7 linked regions of the Homo sapiens genome follow. The protein of the gene in region 1 purifies or fractionates together with the protein of each later gene. This does not show direct contact. Each region holds a gene or a part of one and is shown on either strand. Other genes may lie near its edges.

Region 1 (2,759 bases):
TACCAAGCCCACCCTTCCCTTCCTACCATTGCTGGGCAAAGAGAACTGGGCCACAAATGGCTCCCGGGCAAAGACGTCATCCTCATCGTTGTACACGTAGGAACTCAGGACCTGTGTTTTGTGTGACCTGGGAGGACAAAGGGATGGGCAGCAGTGGCCCCACGTCTTTGATTTTGGCTTGCAAGTGCCAAACGGCGCTCAGGGAGGGGCCCTCCACTAACAGCGGCAATGTGGGCACAGCCCTCCCAACCTGTCTCTAGAACTTTCAAAAATCAGGCATAATTCATATGCCATAAAATTCACCTGCTTCAAGTATACAACACGGTTCTTTTGTACATTCATAAGGCTGTGCAACTATTTCTACAATCAATTTTAAAACATTGGTATCCATTACTCCTAATAAAAACATAACATCCATTACCAGTTACTCTCCATTCTCCCCTCCCCCCAGCCCCTGCAACCATTAATCTGTTCTCTATCTTGTACATTTGCCTATTCTGGATATTTCATATGAATGAAATCAGCTCATCAATGTTTTCTGCGTTCGTCCATATGCTGTGGCACGTCTGTGCTTCATTCCTCTTTCTGGCTGAATAATATTCCACGGACTGGGTATAGTACATTTTGACATTTGGACACTTTGATGTCATTCTTTTTTTTTTTTTTTTTTTTTTTGAGACATGGTCTCACTCTGTTGCTCAGGCTGCAGTGCACTGGCACAATCATAGCTCACTGCAGCCTTGAACTCTTGGGTTCAAGTGATCCTGCTGCTTCAGCCTCCCAAAGCGTTGGGATTACAGGCATGAGCCACTGTACCCTGCCTACCCAGTAATTTTGGAGCGCATACCAGATGTCATATCATTTTATTTATATAGAGAATCAGTTCTCCTTCCCTGCAGCCTCCCTTGCCCTCTGGATCCTGACTCCAAAGGGCTCCCTGCCAGCCTGTCCTCCCAGGGACTTAGAAGATCGGGTCTACCCAAGGCCCATAAGTGGTCCCCACGGAGCCTCTTCCCAGGAGCTGCAGCCCTTGCTGGCCACTTTCATAGAGGGGGCCAGCCACACCCTGAGCCCCAGCAGCTCCCACAGGAGAGAGGAGGAGGGACCCCACATTTGTGCTTATAGAAGGAAGGCCTCCTGCTCTATGGACACTCTGGCGGGGGTCGAGGATGGGAAGAGCCCAGAATAAAAGGTGTTGAGAAGAGAAAGCATGCAAAGCAGGTGAGGCTGTCCCAGGATGGGGGGCCTGTGGCCCCGGGGACTAATGAGCCTACCTCACATTAGGGCCAAGGACCGCCCCCCACCCTGCTGCGCTGCCAGCTCCGTGCTCACCGATAGAAGTACACATACGTCTCCATGTAGGTGCTGCGCCCCAGCTGGGGGCTGCTCAGGGTGCTGTAGGGCCCAGAGCCATCAAATCTGCCAAGAAAAGGGGAGGCGGGGTCAGGGCCTCAAGCCTCTGGGTGTGCCCCTGATTAGACCCACAGAATCTTCCTCACCGATTGAGTTCTCGAAGCAGGAGCGGGATGGCGCTGCCGGAAGAGTCCACCACCTCCTGCAGCACCATGATGTCACAGCGAGCCAGTATCTGTGGGACATCAGGAAGGCCAGCCTGACTCAGTGCCAACTGCCCTGAGAGGAGGCAGTGGGCCCAGGGGACTGGCACTGTTGTGGCCCAGAGTGTTAAGGCTCACTGACTGCAGCCCACAGAAAGCAGTGGGACTGGAAATGCCCCAGGAAAAGACTCATCCCACCCACATGTCACCTGTTTCACAGAGGAGGAGACTGAGGCCAGCAGCAGGCAAGCGCCTGCGCTGCATCTCCGTGCCACACCTCTTCTTCTCCCCTCTTCTCTAGAACATACCCCTGGTCAGGCAGGGATGGGGGCTTTGGCTCATGGTGGTTAGGGGCACGGCTTCCCTGAAGTGATGAACTTACCCGAACTAAGGTGTCCATCACCTGCTCCCTGGCCACCTTGGCCAGTGTCAGCCGCTGGGCATTGAAGGCGCAGATGCGAAAGGCCTGGGCCCCATTGGCCAGGATGAGGAAGAGGAGTGCAGTTGGGTAGTGCATGGCTGTGTGTGGCTGCCGGGGACACCCCAGGAATCCAGGCTGCCCCAGGGTGCGCTCTCACTGGGCTCAGTTCTGGCTCTGGAAGCGCTGAAATATGGAACAGAGAAAGTGGCACTAGCTGCTGCCCAGCACCAGCCTCCCAGTGACCTCCCGAGATCATACCACTGCACTCCAGCCTGGGTGACAGAGTGAGACTCTGTCTCCAAAAAAAAAAATTGTTTTTGAGACAGAGTCTTGCTCTGTGAAGATCAAGCCAAGATCGCACCACTGCACTCCAGCCTGGGCGACAATAAGACTCCGTCTCAAAAAAAAGTGAAATCCTACAGTATTTGTCTTTTTGTGACTGGCTCATTTCACTGAGCAAAATGTCCTCAAGGGTCATTCATGTTGGAGCATATGTCAGAATTTTTTTTTTTTTTTTGAGACGGAGTCTCACTCTGTCGCCCAGGCTGGAGTGCAGTGGCGCAAACGCGGCTCACTGCAAGCTCCGCCTCCTGGGTTCACGCCATTCTCCTGCCTCAGCCTCCCGAGTAGCTGGGACTACAGGTGCCTGCCACACGCCCGGCTAATTTTTTGTATTTTTAGTAGAGATGGGGTTTCACCATGTTAGCCAGAATGGTCTTGATCTCCTGACCTCGTGATCTGCCCGCCTCGGCCTCCCAAAATGCTGGGATTACAGGCGTGAG
Region 2 (3,500 bases), on another chromosome or scaffold:
GTTTTTGGAATGGCTGAATGTTCATGCTGCGTGCCTGTCCTGAACTGCCTTTTTTCCTCTATGGGTGAGGTCTCTGCTCTGTTGGCTCACTATTTCTTTTCCCTCCTACTCAGAGTTAGGGGACGGGCTGGATTACACATGCTTAATCGCTTTATAAAATAAGGTTGACCTAGTTCCATAGAAACGCAAGCCCCTTTAACTGTTTAGAGATACCAGCCAAAGAAATGGAAATGCATGGCAGGAATTATTTTCTGCCTTCATTGATGGAACAAGAGAGAGCAGCACCTATTCATAAGCAGATATTTAGGTGTAGATGTTTAATGAAGAATAGCATCTTCACTAACCTTTTAATGTATTATCAGGGAATGTAGGATTTGTTGACATGAATTGTGTGATGGGAGAAAAGTTGAATAAATATCATATAGGTAGAGTACAGGGATATGAATTCCCCCTCCTCCACTTCCCCCATCATCCCTGGGGCTGTTACGGTTGTGACTTCAGATAAATCACTTTAACTGTTAGCCTCGTGTTAACTCATCTGCAAAATGGGAGGAGAGGGGGGAGGCCAGATTATTACTAATACGTTCTGATTCTTGAGATAATTTTGTTTACTCGTCAGAAATATTTATCCCCTTGGCATTTTAATTTGTTTTTCTTTATCACTGCCTCCTTTCCTCCTCCGGAGATTCAGAGAATCTCTGAAGCTTAATGGTTTGAGGTAATTAATACATCTGATATGATCAGGTGATCAGCCTGTAACAGTAGTGTGTAGTCACTGCACACACTGCAGTTATAGAAAAAACATGTTCTGTTTAATCCACCTGTCAAGATGAATAGCACAAATCAAGGAAGTAATGTGGAATATAGTTTTATAGTGCTTTCTTGTTGTTGTGTTGGAGATCCAACTTAGTGGGAGAATGGTGGAAAAATAAGAATCGGTCAACAGTTTCTTCAAGTTCACTCTGGTGTACTTGAAAGCAGTGAAATCTGTGGCCAATATTGAAATATACATCGAATAAAATTTTCTGTTCTCTTTCCAGACTGCCATCAAGAAGAATAACCCACGGAAATATCTGCGCAGTGTAGGAGATGGAGAAACTGTAGAGTTTGATGTGGTTGAAGGAGAGAAGGTGAGAGGAAATTGTGGTTGGGTATCAAAGTGCTGGCACATAGTACTGTTGCACAATAAATTATCTATCAGCCCCTTATGAATTGACATGACTTTGGAATTTTTGTACAATAGCAGGAAGTGACTTTTAAACAGAATTTTTTTTTTTTTTAAGATGGGGTCTCCCTCTTGCCCAGGCTGGAGTGCAGTGGCGCGATCTTGGTTCACTGCAACTTCCACCATCCAGGTTCAAGTGATTCCTCTGCCTCAGTCTCCCTAATAGCTGGGATTACAGGCATCCACCACCACGCCCGGCTAATTTTTGTATTTTTAGTAGAGACGGGGTTTCACCATGTTGGCCAGGCTGGTCTTGAAACTCCTGACCTTAGGTGATCCACCTGTGTCAGCCTCCCAAAGTACTGGGATTACAGGTGTGAGCCACCACACCCAGCTAGCAGAAATATTTTTGACATTGTCATTATAAACATTCTGCAATAAAGATACTTTAATTTCTTATTTAATAAATGATCAACTCTGATTATGGAAAGAAAAGCTGATTTCTCAATTTAAAAATAATTTATATTTTTATACCAAAGGTATGTATTTCGAAATGCAGATTAAAATTTAACTATCTTATGTATTAACAATATATTAAAAGTGCTTTGCAGCTGGGCGTGGTGGCCCACACCTGTAATCCCAGTACTTTGGGAGGCTGAGGCAGGCGGATCTCCTGAGGTCAGGAGTTCAAGACCAGCCTGGCCAACATGGTGAAACCCGTCTCTACTAAAATTACAAAAATATCTGAGTGTGGTCGCACTCCTGTAATTCCGGCTACTCAGGAGGCTGAGGCAGGAGAATCGTTTGAACCTGGGAGGTGGAGTTTGCAGTGAACTGAGACATTGCACTCCAGCCTGGGGGACAGAGCAAGATTCCGTTTTTTAAAAAAAAAAAAAGAAAAGAAAAACTGCTTTGGGGCAAAAGATTTCTTTTATCAAAGTAAAGTTTTCAGGCTGACTTGTAAGCACTTCTACCTACAAATAATACATGGTAAAGAATATTTTAATCCCAATAAAAGGAGATCGAAATTGAATATTAATCATTTTGTTTTCTGTTTGGCTTGGATTTTGGGAAGCTGAAGGTACCCTGATAGACCCTAAGATAGCTTCGTCCGGGTGAACTGAATCCAAGAAGTTAAGGGATTTTCCTGAAGACTAGCTACAGAAGTTTTTAATACTGTTATATATTTAATTCCGTGTCTGTAATGCCCTTTATGCTTTGTGTTTAGTCTGTTATAGATACTAGTAAAACAATATTGAGTAAGATTAAAAACACGCTAAAACTACATATAGCACAACTGCCATGGCAGCTAATCATGGCAGCTGAATTATAAATTAACTGGATGAGAGGTTAACTCCCTGTATGTGCTCCTCCCATATACACATATACCATTCCATAGGTCATGTTCCTAATGGCTCTCAAACCATTGTGTTTTAAAAGAAAAACAATTTATTTCATTGGATGCAGAAATTTAAGTGATTATCTTTACCGGTGTGATCCCCAGGGTATCTTGTAAGTCTTTTAGATTTTCAAATCACTCACCAGCACCTGCCACTCTGTGAGGATCTCTGATATCCCATCCAATTTTTAAAAAATTGTTTTGGGTTGATTTTTCTTCTGTATGTTTTCAGAACTCAGGGTTTTACAAAGTGATGTAGGGTGTGAAATACACTCTCTGAAATCTTCTTGGTCTACATTTTTTTAACATTTTTGAAACATTTTCCATTTGTCCATATGAGAATAAGAATTCTAAATCTGTTTCAAGGATAATAGGAAAGGCTAAAGAAGGACTACATGTGTGGAGAATATTATTCATCAAAGACCCTTTCTTCTTGTTGCTGCCAAAATAGGAGAAGTTTCACTCAGTACCTTTGTGCTGGACAGAGAATCATATGAGCCCATGAATAGGGATTGTCCTCTTGGTACCTCCTAGACTAACATAGGTTTCAACACATTCTAGGAAAATAACAGTATCTCAAGTCTTTCCCATTGAGGAATATTCTTCCTGGTCTAGCATTGCTTCTACTTTGACAGTTGTATATTTGCTAATTTATGTTCTTTAAAGAGGTTACACATTGCTTTTGCGATTGACATTACTAGACAAGAAAGCAAAACTCAGGTTGTATGAGCAAACAAGCCATATATGTTTAAATCAGGATGTGAAGTACCTTGCTCACTTTGTTTAAAACCTAGATCTGTTTTTAAAATCACAGTGGGAATTCTTAGTATGTTCTGCCAGTCTTATACTCTAGCAGTCCAAGGCTGTTTTTTGAGTTAGTGTATATTCTTTTTAATTTTGAGGCCATCTTTTTATTTTCTTCTCAGGGTGCAGAAG
Region 3 (3,500 bases), on another chromosome or scaffold:
TGAAGGGGGTTATTTTGGAGCCGCGGAAGTTAAGGGAATCCATAATATTAACAAGGGAGTAATCAGTGATGTTGGATGCCTCCTAGAGAGAGGCCACTGAATCTGGATATTATAGTGCTACCAATAATTTTTGAGAGTTCAATTTCATGAGAATACTACAGACGGAAACTGTATTTAATCGTACTTAAATCCTTTGTGTTTTTAAGATGTTTTGTTTTGACCATTAGGTGAAGGTAACTCGTGCTGATGGCAACCAACTGACTCTTGAAGAAAGAAGAAATAATGTAGTCATAACAGTGACACAGAGAAACTATACTGAGTACTGGAGCGGATCTAACAGTGGAAATCAGAAAATGGAAGCTGTTCAGAAAATAAATTATACTGTCCCCCAAAGTGGAACTTTTAAGATTGAATTCCCAATCCTGGAGGATTCCAGTGAGCTACAGTTGAAGGTGCCGTCTGTTTCCCATCATTGTGTCACTGCAACAACACCATTACAGTTGTAATCTTGTGGTAGGCACTCAACCTGTCAGAACTGAAAGTACATAGGAAGTGGACACATGTTTCTGTTTCACAAAATGGAGGAGAGTGGTAAAAGTAATTTAATGACAGTGGCTGAAGGTTAGACTAAATTTTTCCTTGTAAGTTCATTTTGAAGAGCACAGTAAAATATAGCAATGTGAAGATATGATGGAGAATTTCCTCAAATCCCCAGTCTAGTGTTTGAGGTCAGTCATTTGAAATTTTATTTTGGCAGGAATTGAAATGAAAGATAAATATATATACATATATATATATACACACATATATATGTATATGTATATGTGTGTGTGTATATATATATATATATATTCCTTTCCTGTGTTTTAAAGCTATCAGTTTCTTTACAGTATAAGCTATAAAATGATGAAAATCCAATGTCTGGTGAATGTATTTTTCTTGCATTAAAAAAAAGTGAAGATGAATTTGGTCTTTAATAATTGTTCAGCAGGTAACATCTTTTCTCAAGGTGTTACTAAAGATGAACATTTACAGCTCCTTTTTCTTTTATTATAGGCCTATTTCCTTGGTAGTAAAAGTAGCATGGCAGTTCATAGTCTGTTTAAGTCTCCTAGTAAGACATACATCCAACTAAAAACAAGAGATGAAAATATAAAGGTAATGCTTACAATTCACTTGAGAATTACAATATAATTGGACTATCTTGCTTTTGATATGTACATATTAATTAAGGTTTTTTTCTAGGTGGGATCGCCTTTTGAGTTGGTGGTTAGTGGCAACAAACGATTGAAGGAGTTAAGCTATATGGTAATCTCTTATAGAATCTAAATTTATGATCTATTATAGAATCATCTTTTTATTCACTTTTAAGTTCTGGGGTACATGTGCAGGTTTGTTATATAGCTAAACTCATGTCATGGGGGTTTGTTGTACAGATTATTTCATCACCCAGGTATTAATCCTAGTACCCATTAGTTATTTTTCCTGATCCTCTCCCTCCTCCTACCCTCCACCCTCCCATAGGACCCAGTGTCGGTTGTTCCCCTCTATGTGTCCATGTGTTCTCATCATTTAGTGTGCACTTATAAGTGAGAATATGTGGTATTTGGTTTTCTGTTCCTGCATTAGTTTGCTAAGGATAGTGGCCTCCAGCTCCATCCATCTTCCTGCAAAGGACATGATTTTATTCTTTTTTATAGCTGCATAGTATTCCGTAGTATATGTGCACCACGTTTTCTTTATCCAGTCCACCTTTGATGGGCATTTAGGTTGAGAATCATCTTAAATGGTGTCTACCTTATATCTACACTAAACTTATTAATTTTTATAACTCAGCCTCATACCTTTTTAGCCTGTCGTTTTAACATTGCAATCAAATAAAAAACCTTTTTTATTTCTTCACCTATGTTTGCATTTCCAATTTAAAATAGATAACTAAACCTTGTTTTATGTTTAAAATTTAAATTTCTATTTGATAAGCAATATATATTCATTATAGAAAATTATACAATGTAAGAAAAATGAAAAAGAAAATAAAAAGTGCTATCCATGACCATGTAATTTTGCTAATTCAGCTTTCCCAATGGTGCCCTGTATTCCTTGCAATCAAAAATAGATTCTTGACTATGAAGCTACTGTTGCTCCAATCAGTATTACTTTAATCTTACCATTTTCTTTTTCTCAGTGTATGCTCTCTGTGTTTGTCAGAGAGGTTTTCCTGCATTCCAAAAGACTTTGAAGCTGGTTTAATTCAAGAATTTGTGTGTATGCATACAATTATGATTAATGTAGCTTCAGATGAGATCCTACTAGGTTTGGCAATAAATTAAACCCATCTACTGTTCTTTTCAGGTAGTATCCAGGGGACAGTTGGTGGCTGTAGGAAAACAAAATTCAACAATGTTCTCTTTAACACCAGAAAATTCTTGGACTCCAAAAGCCTGTGTAATTGTGTATTATATTGAAGATGATGGGGAAATTATAAGTGATGTTCTAAAAATTCCTGTTCAGCTTGTTTTTAAAAATAAGGTAAGATTTAAGGTAATGATGTTTAAAAGAAAACTTTATATTAGTGAAGTCTGAGAAATGTAATATTTCTTTAGAAAAGTATCATTAAGCCAAACTGGTTAGAAATTTATATTATTCTATTTCTAGAACTATGGTTAAACTTTTCAATATTTAGCATTACATATATATTTTCACTTGTGGAGTTATTGGGGATTGATAGTCTATTTGTAAACTATGGTTCTGGTCTTTAAGACTTTAACTCAGATCATGAAGCTGTTTCAGAATTTTTCAAATGGTTGAATTAATATTGCTCAGGAGTGAAATTCCAGTGGTAACATAGAATTCGTGTGGTGTTGATATTGCAGTGATATAAAGGGTGTGGGAAGGAGTGAGGCCATCTAGGATAATACGTAGAAGCAGAGCTGGGCTTTCATTAATCTATTTAATTAGCTGGAAACTAGCCCAGGGCAACTTTTCAATGAGCTTGATTACCCTGCATGTGAGGATCTGTGTGGAGTCTGGTCTCCAAGTGCACCAGTGCCTTTTATAGCCTAATGTGACCAGCTTGAGTAGGAAATCCCTTTGGACCCCAGCTCTGAAAAGAAACCTGATTGCATCATCTCATGTATATAAGAATGAGCCATTGCTGTCACTAACAACTGCTGCCCTCTCCATCCTCTTATGTAAAAAATTATTCCTTTAAATAGTGATTTGCAGAGTATGGTTCTTCTATTTCTTTTTCCTTTATTTGTTAAAATATTTGAGAAGTAACAGTAGTGATCTGTACTTTCTTTTTTAAAATTTGTATTTATTTATTTTTTGAGACTAGGTTATAAGACTGGCTAATTTTTGTATTTTCGGTAGAGAGAGGGTTTTGCCATGTTGCTCAGGTTGGTCTCTAACTCCTGGGCTCAGGAGATCCACCTGCCTCAGCCTCTCAAGGTGCCGGGATTACAGACATGAGCCACTGCGCCAGGCCTGTACTTTAGTTT
Region 4 (3,500 bases), on another chromosome or scaffold:
TAGGAGTTCAAGTCTGGCCTAAGCCACACAATGAGTCCCCATCTCTATTTTTAAAAGAAAAAAATAACCGGACGCGGTGGCTCATGCCTGTAATCCCAGCACTTTGGGAGGCTGAGGCGGGTGGATCACCTGAGGTCAGGAGTTCGAGACCAGCCTGGCCAACATGGTGAAACCGTGTCTCTAATAAAAATACAAAAAAATTAGCCGGGCATGGTGACACATGCCTGTAATCCCAGCTACTCAGGAGGCTGAGGCAAGAGAATCACTTGAACCCAGGAGAAGGAGGTTGCAGTGAGCCGAGACCGCACCATTGCACTTCAGCCTGGGCAACAAGAACCAAACTCCGTCTCAAAAAAAAACAAATTTGGGGCAGCCATCTCCTTCCACACCCCATGGGGAGAGGACTAGGGCTTGGTCAGTCTGCTGCTTTCACTGTTAAACACCAGCGTGGTGCAGGCTGGTGCTGATGGCTGTCCAGTTCTGTAGGTACAATGATGCCACACCCCTACAGAGATGCTCCATACCAGGACTCCAAAATTATAGTTCTTAGTGCCCTGGTTCTGCAGTTACCATACTCTGCCACCTCCCATTCTACCATCTGGGAGCACCGTACCAGAGCCATTTCTGCTGTCAATGTCATGGAGACAGAACTATGTCCTTCATCTCTCCCCAAGATCTCCTTCCACCCCAGGTCAGGGAGCTTTTTTTCAGAACACAGAGTATTTAAATTTTAATTTAAAAATTAGCCTATTCCTGAACAGTGAGCCTGGCTGCCTTCAATGACCCCAAGAAACTTTGCTCTGTTGAAGGGGACTGATCAAGGGATTCCCAGTTACCCATTATTCCAAAGTTGAAATCCAGATTCCAAGACAATATTTCTGGCACCTCTCACTCAAGGAAAGAGGGGAAGAATTTAAAAACACAGGTTGGATTTCTAGGAGAGCATCTTGCTGTATGTCAGTTCCTTGTGGGCGAGGACCACATCTGATTCATATCAGGGTCCCCAGAGCCCATCCAGCCCTGGCCCAGAGTTTCCTTTGGTGAGTGTTTGGAGGATGAATAAAGAGATGGCAGGACGGCAAGAGGAGTGGCACCAGAGGCTCTTGTCCTAGGTTTTCCACTCTGGGGCCCCAAGTGTGGGGAACTCACTATGCTTTTTTTTTGTTTGTTTTTTGAGACAGAGTTTCGCTCTTGCTGCCCAGGCTGGAGTGCAATGGCATGATCTCAGCTCACTGCAACCTCCACCTCCCGAGTTCAAGCAATTCTCCTGCCACAGCCTCCAAAGTAGCTGGGATTACAGGCATGCGCCACCATGCCCAGCTAATTTTGTGTTTTTAGTAGAGACAGGGTTTCTCCATGTTGGCCAGGCTGGTCTCAAACTCCTAACCTCAGGTGATCCGCCTGCCTTGGCCTCCCAAAGTGCTAGGATTACAGGCATGAGCCACCACTGCAATCACGCCCGGCTCTATGCTTTTATAAGGGAAATGATGGATCCAAAGTGCTGTCCACTATCTCCCACTCCCCATCTCTCTTCAGGTCAGACTTGTTCTGGGCCAGGAGGAGCTGAGGCTGCAGACTCCAGCAGAGACGCTGCTGAGTGACTCCATCCCCCACACTGTGGTGCTGACTGTCGTAGAGGGCTGGGCCACGTTGTCAGTCGATGGGTTTCTGAACGCCTCCTCAGCAGTCCCAGGAGCCCCCCTAGAGGTCCCCTATGGGCTCTTTGTTGGGGGCACTGGGACCCTTGGCCTGCCCTACCTGAGGGGAACCAGCCGACCCCTGAGGGGTTGCCTCCATGCAGCCACCCTCAATGGCCGCAGCCTCCTCCGGCCTCTGACCCCCGATGTGCATGAGGGCTGTGCTGAAGAGTTTTCTGCCAGTGATGATGTGGCCCTGGGCTTCTCTGGGCCCCACTCTCTGGCTGCCTTCCCTGCCTGGGGCACTCAGGACGAAGGAACCCTAGAGTTTACACTCACCACACAGAGCCGGCAGGCACCCTTGGCCTTCCAGGCAGGGGGCCGGCGTGGGGACTTCATCTATGTGGACATATTTGAGGGCCACCTGCGGGCCGTGGTGGAGAAGGGCCAGGGTACCGTATTGCTCCACAACAGTGTGCCTGTGGCCGATGGGCAGCCCCATGAGGTCAGTGTCCACATCAATGCTCACCGGCTGGAAATCTCCGTGGACCAGTACCCTACGCATACTTCGAACCGAGGAGTCCTCAGCTACCTGGAGCCACGGGGCAGTCTCCTTCTCGGGGGGCTGGATGCAGAGGCCTCTCGTCACCTCCAGGAACACCGCCTGGGCCTGACACCAGAGGCCACCAATGCCTCCCTGCTGGGCTGCATGGAAGACCTCAGTGTCAATGGCCAGAGGCGGGGGCTGCGGGAAGCTTTGCTGACGCGCAACATGGCAGCCGGCTGCAGGCTGGAGGAGGAGGAGTATGAGGACGATGCCTATGGACATTATGAAGCTTTCTCCACCCTGGCCCCTGAGGCTTGGCCAGCCATGGAGCTGCCTGAGCCATGCGTGCCTGAGCCAGGGCTGCCTCCTGTCTTTGCCAATTTCACCCAGCTGCTGACTATCAGCCCACTGGTGGTGGCCGAGGGGGGCACAGCCTGGCTTGAGTGGAGGCATGTGCAGCCCACGCTGGACCTGATGGAGGCTGAGCTGCGCAAATCCCAGGTGCTGTTCAGCGTGACCCGAGGGGCACGCCATGGCGAGCTCGAGCTGGACATCCCGGGAGCCCAGGCACGAAAAATGTTCACCCTCCTGGACGTGGTGAACCGCAAGGCCCGCTTCATCCACGATGGCTCTGAGGACACCTCCGACCAGCTGGTGCTGGAGGTGTCGGTGACGGCTCGGGTGCCCATGCCCTCATGCCTTCGGAGGGGCCAAACATACCTCCTGCCCATCCAGGTCAACCCTGTCAATGACCCACCCCACATCATCTTCCCACATGGCAGCCTCATGGTGATCCTGGAACACACGCAGAAGCCGCTGGGGCCTGAGGTTTTCCAGGCCTATGACCCGGACTCTGCCTGTGAGGGCCTCACCTTCCAGGTCCTTGGCACCTCCTCTGGCCTCCCCGTGGAGCGCCGAGACCAGCCTGGGGAGCCGGCGACCGAGTTCTCCTGCCGGGAGTTGGAGGCCGGCAGCCTAGTCTATGTCCACCGCGGTGGTCCTGCACAGGACTTGACGTTCCGGGTCAGCGATGGACTGCAGGCCAGCCCCCCGGCCACGCTGAAGGTGGTGGCCATCCGGCCGGCCATACAGATCCACCGCAGCACAGGGTTGCGACTGGCCCAAGGCTCTGCCATGCCCATCTTGCCCGCCAACCTGTCGGTGGAGACCAATGCCGTGGGGCAGGATGTGAGCGTGCTGTTCCGCGTCACTGGGGCCCTGCAGTTTGGGGAGCTGCAGAAGCAGGGGGCAGGTGGGGTGGAGGGTGCTGAGTGGTGGGCCACACAGGCGTTCCACCAGCGGGATGTGGAGCAGGG
Region 5 (3,500 bases), on another chromosome or scaffold:
CCTGTAGTCCCAGCTACTTGGGAGGCTGAGGCAGGAGAATCACTTGAACCCAGGAGACGGAGGTTGCAGTGAGCTGAGATGGTGCCACTGCACTCCATCCAGCCTGGTGACAGAGCGAGGCTCCCTCTAAAAGAAAAACAAAAAAAGAAAAGGAAATGAAGGAAATGAAGGCTGGGCATGGTAGCTCATGCCTGTAATCCCAGCACTTTGGGAGGCCGAGGCCAGTGGATCACTTGAGGCCAGGAATTTGAGACCAGCCTAGCCAACATGGTGAAACCCCGTCTCTACTAAAAATAAAAACATTAGCTGGGCATAGTGGCACAGGCCTGTAATCCCAGCTACTTGGGAGGGTGAGGCATGAGAATTGCTTGAACCTGGGAGGCAGAGGTTGCAGTGAGCTGAGATGGCACCACTGCATTCCAGCCTGGGTGACAGAGCAAGACTCTGTCTCAAAAAAAAAAGAAAAGAAAAAGAAAAGAATCTGTGTACCAGAAGAGGAAATGTGGGCCTGAGTATTCATGAGATCATGTGTGGGGTTGTTCATTGGCATGGGCTGTGGGTGTATAACCGCTGTCAGCATATGTATGTACACAGGATTTCTTGTGTATGAGCATGGGTTGTGTGTATATGGACACTGTTCATGTCTGTTTCTATAACAGGTAACCAAAGTCTGTATATGGTAGGGTGGTGTATATGCAGGCTTGTGAATGTACTCCAGTTGCATGTCCCAGGCTCTGCATGTGTAGGGGGTAGTAGTATGTTTTCTTGAGATTTTATTTTATTTTATTATTTATTTATTTATTTTTGAGATGGAGTCTTGCTCTGTCACGCAGGCTGGAGTGCAGTAGCGTGATCTTGGCTCACTGCAACCTCTGCCTCTCAAGTTCAAGTGATTCTCCTGCCTCGGCCTCCCAAGTAGCTGGGATTACAGGCATGCGCCACCAGGCCCTGCTAATTTTTGTATTTTTAGTAGAGACGGAGTTTCACCACGTTGGCCAGGCTGGTCTTGAACTCCCGACCTCAAGTGATCCGCCCACCTCGGCCTCCCAAAATGCTGAGATTACAGGCATGAGCCACTGCGCCCAGCCAATGTTTTCTTGAGATTTTAAATGTGGGGCTATTGAATGCACCAGTGGTGGCTGGGGTGTTCGTGCTTTTCTAGCCCTCAGCATCTGCAGATGGGCCAAGCTGTAGCCTCCACCCCTTACTGCCTGCAGCTGCCCCTGAGCCTGGACCTGCCCAGCCCCCGGCCCTTCGCTTTGCCTCTGGGCAGCCCTCGAATCCCCCTCCCGGCGCAGCAGAGCTCGGAGGCCCGTGTCATCCGCGTCAGCATCGACAATGACCACGGGAACCTGTATCGAAGCATCTTGGTGAGGGGCTGGGCTGGGGGTCTGCTGGAGGCTGCCCTGCCCTTGGGGCCGGGGCCCTCACCTCACCTCCCGCCCCTCTCTTCCAGCTGACCAGTCAGGACAAAGCCCCCAGCGTGGTCCGGCGAGCCTTGCAGAAGCACAATGTGCCCCAGCCCTGGGCCTGTGACTATCAGCTCTTTCAAGTCCTTCCTGGGGACCGGGGTGAGCAGGGATGGGTTGGAGCTCAGGATAGGGGGCAGCGGGGAGGCGAGCAGACTGACCACGCCCAAGGATGGAGCCCAAGGTTACCCGGGTTCACAGGGCTGTGAGGTGCTTCAGGCAGAGAGTAGGGGTAAGATAATCAGTGGAGGTAAGAGGACATAAAATACCTGTAACCCAACGATGTAGGGTCATGAGATTGTCTTGGCTCAGTGTGAGAGAGAGGTACCAAAGGTCATCTTCCTAAAATTTAAAAGACAATAAGATTGTCCAGGGTCCGGCCAGGCGCAGTGGCTCATGTCTGTAATCCCAGCACTTTGGGAGGTCAAGCTGGGCGGATCACTTGAGGTCAGGAGTTTGAGACCAGGCTGACCAACGTGGTGAAACCCCGTCTCTACGAAACATACAAAAATTAGTCGGGTGTGGTGGCACACTCCTGTAGTCCCAGCTACTCAGGAGGCTGAGGCAGGAGAATAATTGCTTGAATCTGGGAGGCGGAGGTTGCAGTGAGCCGAGATCATACCACTGCACTTCAGCCTGGGCAGCAGAGCGAGACTCTGTTTAAAAAAAAAAAAAAAAAAAAAGACTGTCCACGGACAAGTGACAGAAGGGAGTGTTTCTGACCTTCAATTTGTAGGATGGGCTGGGCATGGTGGCTCACAACTGTAATCCCAGCACTTTGGGAGGTCAAGGTGGGTGGATTGTCTGAGCTCAGGAGTTTGAGACCAGCCTGGGCAACATGAGGAGACCCCATCTATACAAAAAATAGAGAAATTGGCTGGGTGCGGTGGCTCAACGCCTGTAATCCCGGCACTTTGGGAGGCCAAAGCGGGTGGATCACTTGAGGTCAGGAGTTCGAGACCAGCCTGGCCAACATGGTGAAGCCCCGTCTCTACTAAAAATACAAAAAAATTAGCTGGGCATGGTGGCACATGCCTGTAGTCTCAGCTACTCGGGAGGCTGAGGCAGAAGAATCGCTTGAACCCAGGAGGCGGAGGTTGCAGTGAGCCGAGATCGCACCACTGCACTCCAGCCTGGCGACTGAGCAAGACTCTGTCTCAAAAAAAAAAAAAAAAAAAAAAAAAAAATATATATATATATATATATATAGAGAGAGAGAGAGAGAGAGAGAGAGAGAGAGAGAGATTAGCTGAGCATGGTGGCATGTGCCTGTATTCCCAACTCCAACTACTGGGGAGGCTGAGGTGGGAGGATCACTTGAGCCTAGGAGGTGGAGGCTGCAGCGAGCTGAGATCACGCCACTGCACTCCAGCCTGGGTGACAGAGCAAGACCCTGTCTCAATTAAAAAAAAAAAAGGGGGCCGGGCATGGTGGCTCACGCCTGTAATCCCAGCACTTTGGGAGGCCGAGGCGGGTGGATCACGAAGTCAAGAGATCGAGACCATCCTGGCCAACATGGTGAAGCCTCGTCTCTACTAAAAATACAAAAAATTAGCCAGGCATGGTGGCAGGCGCCTATAGTCCCAGCTACTCAGGAGGCTGAGGCAGAAGAATCACTTGAACCCAGGAGGTGAAGGTTGCAGTGAGCCAAGATTGCGCCACTGCACTCCAGCCTGGCGACAGAGTGAGACTCCGTCTCAAAAAAAAAGAAAAAATAGATTGTCTAGGGTCGAGTGAGAGAAGGGAGTGTAGAAGTTTGTCTGATCTTAAGTTTGTAGCATCATGAGATTGTTCAGGCTCAACCTGATGGGATGGGAGACTAAAGGGCATCTGGGCTTAGATTTGTGAGAACTAAGTTTGTTCACCACTGGGACCCTGAAGTTATCTGAACTTGGGACGGGAGAGAGGCAAATGGATAGCCGCGGAAGCATGAGATTGTCCTGTCTGACAGGGAGAAGCAAGGGATTGAGCGTATTCACGCTGAAGTACATGGCATGAGGTTGGCTGGATATTAGGAAAGGATGCTTGTGG
Region 6 (3,500 bases), on another chromosome or scaffold:
GATACACTGTCTGAACAAGCACCAACTGAAGGAGCTATGCCTGAGAGAAGGAATTCAAGATCCACCAAAACATTTACCAAGGGTTCCCCAAGACCTGCACTGGAAGGAAAGGGTGCTGATATAGGTCAAATCCCTCCACTTGGCCATAGGATTGGATCTCTGTGCCTGCTGCCGTCATAGATGCTTAGACATCAAATGCCTGGTCTAAAGAAAGACTAAGATACAGACAAAAAAGGATGCTATTTGTTTGGGTTGGGATGGTACGATGGGGAGAATGAAGCTCCACATGCAAAACTTCATTCGCTTGGTCATTTGCTTATTTAGACATCAACAAAACATTTTTTTGAGTGCTTTGCATAGTGCCATGCACTTGTGGAGGCCACATGGTGTTCTTGCTTTCAAGGAGACTACAGTCTCTTAAGGAGACAGACAAGAAAACAGTTTCAATGTGGGGTGATTGAATAGTGTTACATATAAATGCTTTCTTTTTTGGAAAAGAAAAATACAATACATGTGATTTATTCCTTTCTTTTTAAAGGGATTTTTTATCTTATGCTTTGGAATACTCTTGGACAGTAAGGTATGTGTATTTATTTCTCTCATTAACCCCTAGCCTAGACATCTTAGGCCCCCTCCCCTTTGTTCTGAGGCCTTTATTCATATAATAAGAGGTGGGACTATTGGTACTTTTGTAATAAAATTCTGTGCTTTTAGAGAAGTCAGGCTCAGTCAGAAAACAAAGGAACTAAACAGTCACTGCTGATAAAGCTTGCAGAACTAATCAAACATGTAATGTAAACGTTGTCGGAAAAAAGGGGAATTCTTTTTACCTTTAACTTTTCTAATTTAAATTATGGTATGGCAGTAATTCCATAGCAAAATTGCTTTGCTAACAGGTGAATTCTCTTTTGTTCTTTCAATTATTCTACCCATTTATTTAGAATATGCTGAAATATATATCTACTTCTATACTTGTAGAGTTTTAAACAGTAAGTGTTAATAGCCTCTCACAGACTATTATTCTAAGTGAAGTAATTCAGGAATGGAAAACCAAGCATTGTATATTTTCACTCATAAGTGGGTGATAAGCTTTGAGGATGCAAAGACATAAAAATGACACAATGGACTTTGGGGACTCAGGGGAAAAGGGTGGGAAGGGGGTGAGGGATAAAAGACTACAAATTGGGTGCAGTATATACTGCTCAGGTGATGGGTGCATCAGAATCTCACAAATCACCACTAAAGAACTTACTCATGTAACCAAACACCACTTGTTCCCCAATAACCTATGGAAATAAAAATATTTTAAAAAGTAAAGTATACTGTTGAAGAAAAATAAATAAATAAATAGCCTCTCACATTAAATAAAATTCCCAGTGAAGAACAGTAAGTTTAAATGAAAGATAATAGAAAAAAATTTTTAAATATACTTGTTTCATAAACCCAAGCATTAAACAATTCTGTTGGGAGAGGTGAAGGCCATAAGCTAATAGATGTATAGTCTTTGTTTTAATAAGAAAATAAAAAATTTTTATAATTAGCAAAATTGTTGCTAATTATAGGAACAATTTTGCACATGAACAAACTGCTATCTACAAAGAAGCAATTTGCTGTTCTTAATTGTACTAAAAGTAATTGCCTTGTCTTACCATTCATGTGGTTAGGAAACTCTTCACTTCAAAGATACACTTCAGTTTAGCAATTATTGCCAACTACTAATGTCTAAAATTGGAATGAGTATGGCATTTGGTACTGTTGTTCTTTGTTGAACTCTAGTTTTGTTTATAGGTAAAGAGATGAAGAAAATAATCTTTCTACCAGATATCCATTCATGGTCTACTAACTGCTTCTAGGAAATAATACTATTAAATAACCATTTCAACCTGCAGTTGTTCTTGATTTGTCTGTGTATGATTGTATGTGTATCTCCTCAATATTTCTTTGTTGCCCTTATAGCTGCGACAACTTCTGTTCAACAAGTTGTCTGCCTTAAGTTCTTGGAAGCAAACAGAAAAGGTAATTATCTCCTACTGCCATGAATCCAATACATGAAGTTCCAGTTTTGCATTCTTCTCTTTATACAGTCTTGCTGCAAGCCAACTTCTGTGTAAACCCCTTGAATTTCTTTCACCATTATATTCCTGGTATCTGACATGGAGCCTGGCACATGAGTGGTAGTAAAGAGTTGTTGAGTGAATGAGTGATTAAATGAGTGACTGTGAAGTCATGGAAACTTACAAGGATGCTCAAGTATGGAAGTCTGTGGGTGCTTGTGAGTGAATACTTTTGAACAATGGCATTTACTTTAGTCTGACTAGCTTATCAATATTTAGAACTAGCAAGGCCCTTTTCTTCATCTGACTTTCTGAACCTTCTGTAAACCATTTTTCCTTCTCTAGACAGATAAAATGAGAGATCTTGGTTAAATTCTTGTCTTTAAATTTGGTTAACTTCTAATACATAAAAGTATTATGTATTAATAATTTTCTTTTTTTAGGCTGCTATCACTGATTCTGTTACTTGCAATCTTAGCTCTTAAGTCTACAAACCCACAAGTTTTTAAGGAAATGGAGGATTTCTGTATCATTCTTTGCCATAAAAGTATAATCCATATGGGGATAGTATATTTAGAAACAAAAGTGCTTGAACACATATTTTGTGTTTTCAATATTATTTAGACTTTTGTTTTTCAGCGAGGCACTGAGGGCCTTTCAGAAGGAGTTCTAAAGCAGAGAATTTCTTTATTTTATAAAAGTCAACTGACTTAACTGCATCCAAACCTATATGGGTATTGAGAGATTTTTACAAGTGACAATATAACTTTTTGAAATAAAAATCAATAAGGAAATTTTCCTCTGGCATTAAAAAGTCTTCCTTGGTCTGCATTTTTCAGTAGACAGCACTGCTGTGAATTACGGAGCACTGGCCCATGAGCAGGTGGACCAGTCCTGCCCTTGTATTTCTGACTCCGTAACCAATTGACTGTGTGATCTTAGGAAAGTCACTTCGTCTCTAAGTTTTAATTTTCTCAACTGTAGAAAATAAATGTTGGACTAGTTATTCAAAGCAGAAGTTCTCACATTCTGGGATTTAGATTTTATGTCTGGAAGAACTAAAAATCACTCGAACCAGAAGTTGTGAAACTAATGAGTCATTACCTACACTTAAGAAAAGGAGAAAATTACAGCACATGTGACTACATAAAAGATAAAACCTTTAGTGAATATAATGAGACGGGACACTCCCCACCCTGCAAAGCAGAAAGTCAAAATTTTTCTCCTTTGAAAACCAAAGAAGGAAAAATACTCCCAAGTAAAATAAAACAAAAGCAAAAGCAAGAATGCCTAACAGTTTCTCTCTGTTTCTAACATCAAGCACTGACACTTCTGAGAAGGCAGTGTCTGTATTTGTACCTTCTCCCCAATTTCATTTCCAAATTAGGTGACAAAAATGAGATTTTGTTGCTGGTTAGGTGGCTCATTTGTTTTAAAATAAATATA
Region 7 (3,500 bases), on another chromosome or scaffold:
TTGAAGATGTATCTGCTTCCTGGGAAAGAGATGGAGTAAGAAGGTGGGGTATGAACAGCAGCCCTGGTGGTAGGAACTGTCTCCCCACATGGTCTGGGACAGACGCTCAGGGAGTTTCTGGGAAGGAGTGTGTATGTCCCCATGTCCTCGTGAGTCCAGCCTGGTGACATTTGAGGAAGTGAGGCTAGATGTGCAATGTGCCACATGGACATGGGAGTCACGCAACCCCTGTCTTCACCAGAGACAGCTGTCAGCAGCAGAGCTTCCCCGGGGGCAGGACCCACCAGAGGGAAGCCAGGCCCACACTGCTCTCTGTCATTGCCTCTTTTGGGAGTTGCCATTTTATAAAGCAGGCAAATCCCACCTCAGGGTTCATGCGTTTATTTTAAATTTTTTGTTTTTCAGTTAAACTTATTTTAAAGTTGTGTTCACCAAAAGCAGTAAGACTACAATGGTATATAAGGAAAAAATTGCCCCCATTCTCCCCACACACACACTTTGAAGCTGTGTGAGCAGCCTGGCTTCTGTCTTTCTGTATATCCTCCCAGCCACATGTGGAGGTCGTGTTTCATTTGCATGTTTTTACAATAACAAAGTGGGGCTACCGCACCCGCACCCACAGTCACCTTGCTCCTCTCATCTGCCCGCAGGTCCTGGAGGTTCCTCCAGGTCTAAGGGCCCCATGGTCTTCCACAGTGTGAGGTGCTGGTTAATTCACTCGCTGTCCTGCTGGCAGATGACCTGGTAGATGCAGGACTTCTGCTGGGCCATTGCACTGACTTCATTCTGCTCTGCATGGGTCCTATGGATTCATCCCCCTCGCTGCCCCACACCTCACCTTCTGCTGTCTTTTCTGTGTTAGGCAGCAGTCCTGGAAACTTTGGAATCCCCTTTACCTTGTTTGCCACCCAACGTTCCGTTGGTCATCAGGTCCTGCAGCGCCATCCCCTTTCCTGCTGTCCTTCCCACTCCACCAGGCACCTGAGTTATTCGCAGGCTCAGCCTCCCCAGCCTCCCTCCTGGCTGGCCCATCCTTCAGACCTGTTGGGGATCTTTCCTTCCCTCATTTGCATCTTCTCACACCTAGAATGACCTTAGACCTTAGCGTTCCAGTCTCTACACAGACCTTGCCCTCACTGCAGTCTCTGTCCCTGCCCATGCTGGCTGGCCTCAGCCCATACCCTGCCTGAGGCTGGGCCTGCAGGTCTGGCACCATTGTAAGATTGCACAGGAAAAGGACTTGGTGCTTTCTGAGAGCTTCTGCAGTGTGTGCATGTGGGTGTGCATGTGTGTGTGTGCACGTGTGGATGCATATCTGTGCACGTGTGTGAGTATGCATGTTTGTGTGTACATGTGTGTATTCATCCACCAGTAATCCTAATTTCCATCTCTTTATTTCCTACAGTAAGAGTTCCCTATTTCATTGATTTGAAAAAACCACAGGATCAAGGTTTGAATCACACGTGTAACTACTACCTGCAGCCAGAGGAAGACGTGACCATTGGAGTCTGGTGAGTGCCAGTGAGCTCTGCAGCCCCTCCAGCAGCAGGAAAGGACCCTACATGACTGAGCTGGTGCTGTCTTTGACATTGGCCTCTGAAATGTTGTTCATTTTTATCTTCACCTCTTCCTTTCCTAAAGGAAAGATCTCAGTACATTTGATCCATCCTAATGTTGAGGGATTCAATGGCTTTAAACTCTATTCCCAGCCTTTCAAAACAGCAAAGGCTTTGTGAACAGATTATTATTTTTAGAGAGACTTGTTTCTAGGAAAAACGAAAAGCAAACAAAGAAGCTAGAAACAGGATATAAGTGGCCGGCACAGTGGCTCACACCTGTAATCCCAGCACTTTGGGAGGCTGAGGCAAGTGGATCACTTGAGTCCAGGAGTTTGAGACCAGCCTTGGCGACAAGGTGAAACCCCATCTCTACTAAAAATACAAAAATTAGCCAGGCATGGTGGTGCACACCTGTAATCCCAGCTACTTGGGAGGCTGAGGCAGGAGGATCACTTGACTCCAGGAGGCAGAAGTTGCAGTGAGCTGAGTTCACGCCACTGCACTCCAGCCTGGATGACAGAGCAAGACTCTGTGTCCAAAAAAAAGAGAATATAAGGGAAGAATCACAAACACTGGTTTGAATATATCTTCCATCCAGGCGCGGTGGCTCACGCCTGTAATCCCAGCACTTTGGGAGGCCGAGACGGGTGGATCACTTGAGATCAGGAGTTCGAGACCACCCTAAACAACATGGTGAAACCCCGTCTCTACTGAAAAAAAAATACAAAAATTAGCTGGGCATGGTGGCACGCGCCTGTAGTCCCAGCTACCCGGGAGTTTGAGGCAAGAGAATTGCTTGAACGCAGGAGGCAGAGGCTGCAGTGAGCTGAGATTATGCCACTGCACTCCAGCCTGGGCAACAGAGCGAGACTCTTGTCTCAAAAAAAAAAAAAAATATATATATATATATATATCTTTTCCAAGAGGTGAACATCTAGATACTGAAAACAGCTTGATTTCTTTTCACATATAGCTTCGCACCAGCTGATGATGATGGTGTTGGCTGTCTTCTGAGTATTTACTTTTTTAAGCCATAAGTTTACACTGGACATAAGCCTTGTGACTTCTCTGTGTCTCCTTGGAATACATTTTAATGTTTTCTTCTGTACACAAGTGGTGCTTCTGAACAGCTGAATTAAAATTGACCAACCTCACTGTAGCATTTCCGTTTTTCTCTGAGAAGTGAGCCTGAATCACAGCCCTTTTATCTAGCTGAATTTATTTTTCAGTAGCCATAACGTCGCTTTCCACTGTCTCAGAAAACCACTGTGTATGTGAGAAGCTTCTAAATGAAATGCTGTGAGTAGCTTCCCAGTGTGGATGAGAGAACATTCAGACATTTCTAACAGTGGTCCTTGGTAAAGAACATAAAACAAGAAGGGAGATTTTTGTTCTTAGTAGTTGGTGCTGGGATTAAAGTCTTTTGTCACTTCCTGATTTGATTTAATCTAGCATTTACTGACCAATGTGTGACTGTGGGACTCCTCAGGTTTCTGTCTGAAGCATGACTTGTTTTGCACAGAGCTGCTGAGTGGGACTTGGTCAGCCCTCTTCTTGGTTAACATGAGTCTGTCCTATTGCAGGAGGGTGTTTATGGTGGTGAGACTTAGGCTGGAAGTACTAACAACTCCTGCATACATTATCAGCTACCAGAAAAGGTTTTGTTTAGTGATGTCAGTGGCAAGTGTCAAGGCAGTGACAGCCACGCTGTGTGTTGCTGTGTGTTGGTGGGTGCGTGTTGGTGAGTGCGGCTGCTGCCCACTCTCATGCCCTAGGCAGTCACAATGACATTGGGCCCTCAGGCAGCAGCAGGCCCAGCTCACCAACTGCCCCCACCATCGCTTCATCAGACCCTCCCACCAGCTTCCTGAAAGGAGGGCCTCAAGGCCTAGAGTGGAGCCTGGGGGCCATTCCTGGCCATGCCTGGCCATCGCCTGTCTG

The links.
Region 2: the proteins of DNASE1L1 (region 1) and YBX3 fractionate together in Homo sapiens (co-fractionation; one large-scale study listed by BioGRID). This does not show direct contact.
Region 3: the proteins of DNASE1L1 (region 1) and CD109 purify together in Homo sapiens (co-immunoprecipitation; 2 studies listed by BioGRID and IntAct, with this or other methods). This does not show direct contact.
Region 4: the proteins of DNASE1L1 (region 1) and CSPG4 purify together in Homo sapiens (affinity purification with mass spectrometry; one large-scale study listed by BioGRID and IntAct). This does not show direct contact.
Region 5: the proteins of DNASE1L1 (region 1) and RGL3 purify together in Homo sapiens (affinity purification with mass spectrometry; one large-scale study listed by BioGRID and IntAct). This does not show direct contact.
Region 6: the proteins of DNASE1L1 (region 1) and ADGRF1 purify together in Homo sapiens (affinity purification with mass spectrometry; one large-scale study listed by BioGRID and IntAct). This does not show direct contact.
Region 7: the proteins of DNASE1L1 (region 1) and ABHD12 purify together in Homo sapiens (affinity purification with mass spectrometry; one large-scale study listed by BioGRID and IntAct). This does not show direct contact.

The regions. Positions count from the first base shown.
Region 1 is NC_000023.11:154,403,496-154,406,254, forward strand, and holds part of DNASE1L1 (deoxyribonuclease-1-like 1 precursor), read right to left. Parts: intron 2,161-2,759; 5' UTR 2,074-2,160; coding exon 1,939-2,073; intron 1,589-1,938; coding exon 1,500-1,588; intron 1,420-1,499; coding exon 1,333-1,419; intron 128-1,332; coding exon 27-127; intron 1-26.
Region 2 is NC_000012.12:10,713,324-10,716,823, reverse strand, and holds part of YBX3 (Y-box-binding protein 3), read left to right. Parts: intron 1-1,040; coding exon 1,041-1,130; intron 1,131-3,490; coding exon 3,491-3,500. UniProt on the Homo sapiens protein: Binds to the GM-CSF promoter. Seems to act as a repressor. Also binds to full-length mRNA and to short RNA sequences containing the consensus site 5'-UCCAUCA-3'. May have a role in translation repression.
Region 3 is NC_000006.12:73,765,703-73,769,202, forward strand, and holds part of CD109 (CD109 antigen isoform 1 preproprotein), read left to right. Parts: intron 1-227; coding exon 228-452; intron 453-1,056; coding exon 1,057-1,158; intron 1,159-1,245; coding exon 1,246-1,308; intron 1,309-2,352; coding exon 2,353-2,529; intron 2,530-3,500. UniProt on the Homo sapiens protein: Modulates negatively TGFB1 signaling in keratinocytes.
Region 4 is NC_000015.10:75,688,849-75,692,348, reverse strand, and holds part of CSPG4 (chondroitin sulfate proteoglycan 4 precursor), read left to right. Parts: intron 1-1,536; coding exon 1,537-3,500. UniProt on the Homo sapiens protein: Proteoglycan playing a role in cell proliferation and migration which stimulates endothelial cells motility during microvascular morphogenesis. May also inhibit neurite outgrowth and growth cone collapse during axon regeneration.
Region 5 is NC_000019.10:11,395,315-11,398,814, reverse strand, and holds part of RGL3 (ral guanine nucleotide dissociation stimulator-like 3), read left to right. Parts: intron 1-1,217; coding exon 1,218-1,370; intron 1,371-1,456; coding exon 1,457-1,571; intron 1,572-3,500.
Region 6 is NC_000006.12:47,004,333-47,007,832, reverse strand, and holds part of ADGRF1 (adhesion G-protein coupled receptor F1 isoform 1 precursor), read left to right. Parts: intron 1-538; coding exon 539-580; intron 581-1,956; coding exon 1,957-2,016; intron 2,017-3,500. UniProt on the Homo sapiens protein: Adhesion G-protein coupled receptor (aGPCR) for N-docosahexaenoylethanolamine (synaptamide), an omega-3 fatty acid lipid highly enriched in the brain.
Region 7 is NC_000020.11:25,321,336-25,324,835, reverse strand, and holds part of ABHD12 (lysophosphatidylserine lipase ABHD12), read left to right. Parts: intron 1-1,405; coding exon 1,406-1,511; intron 1,512-3,500.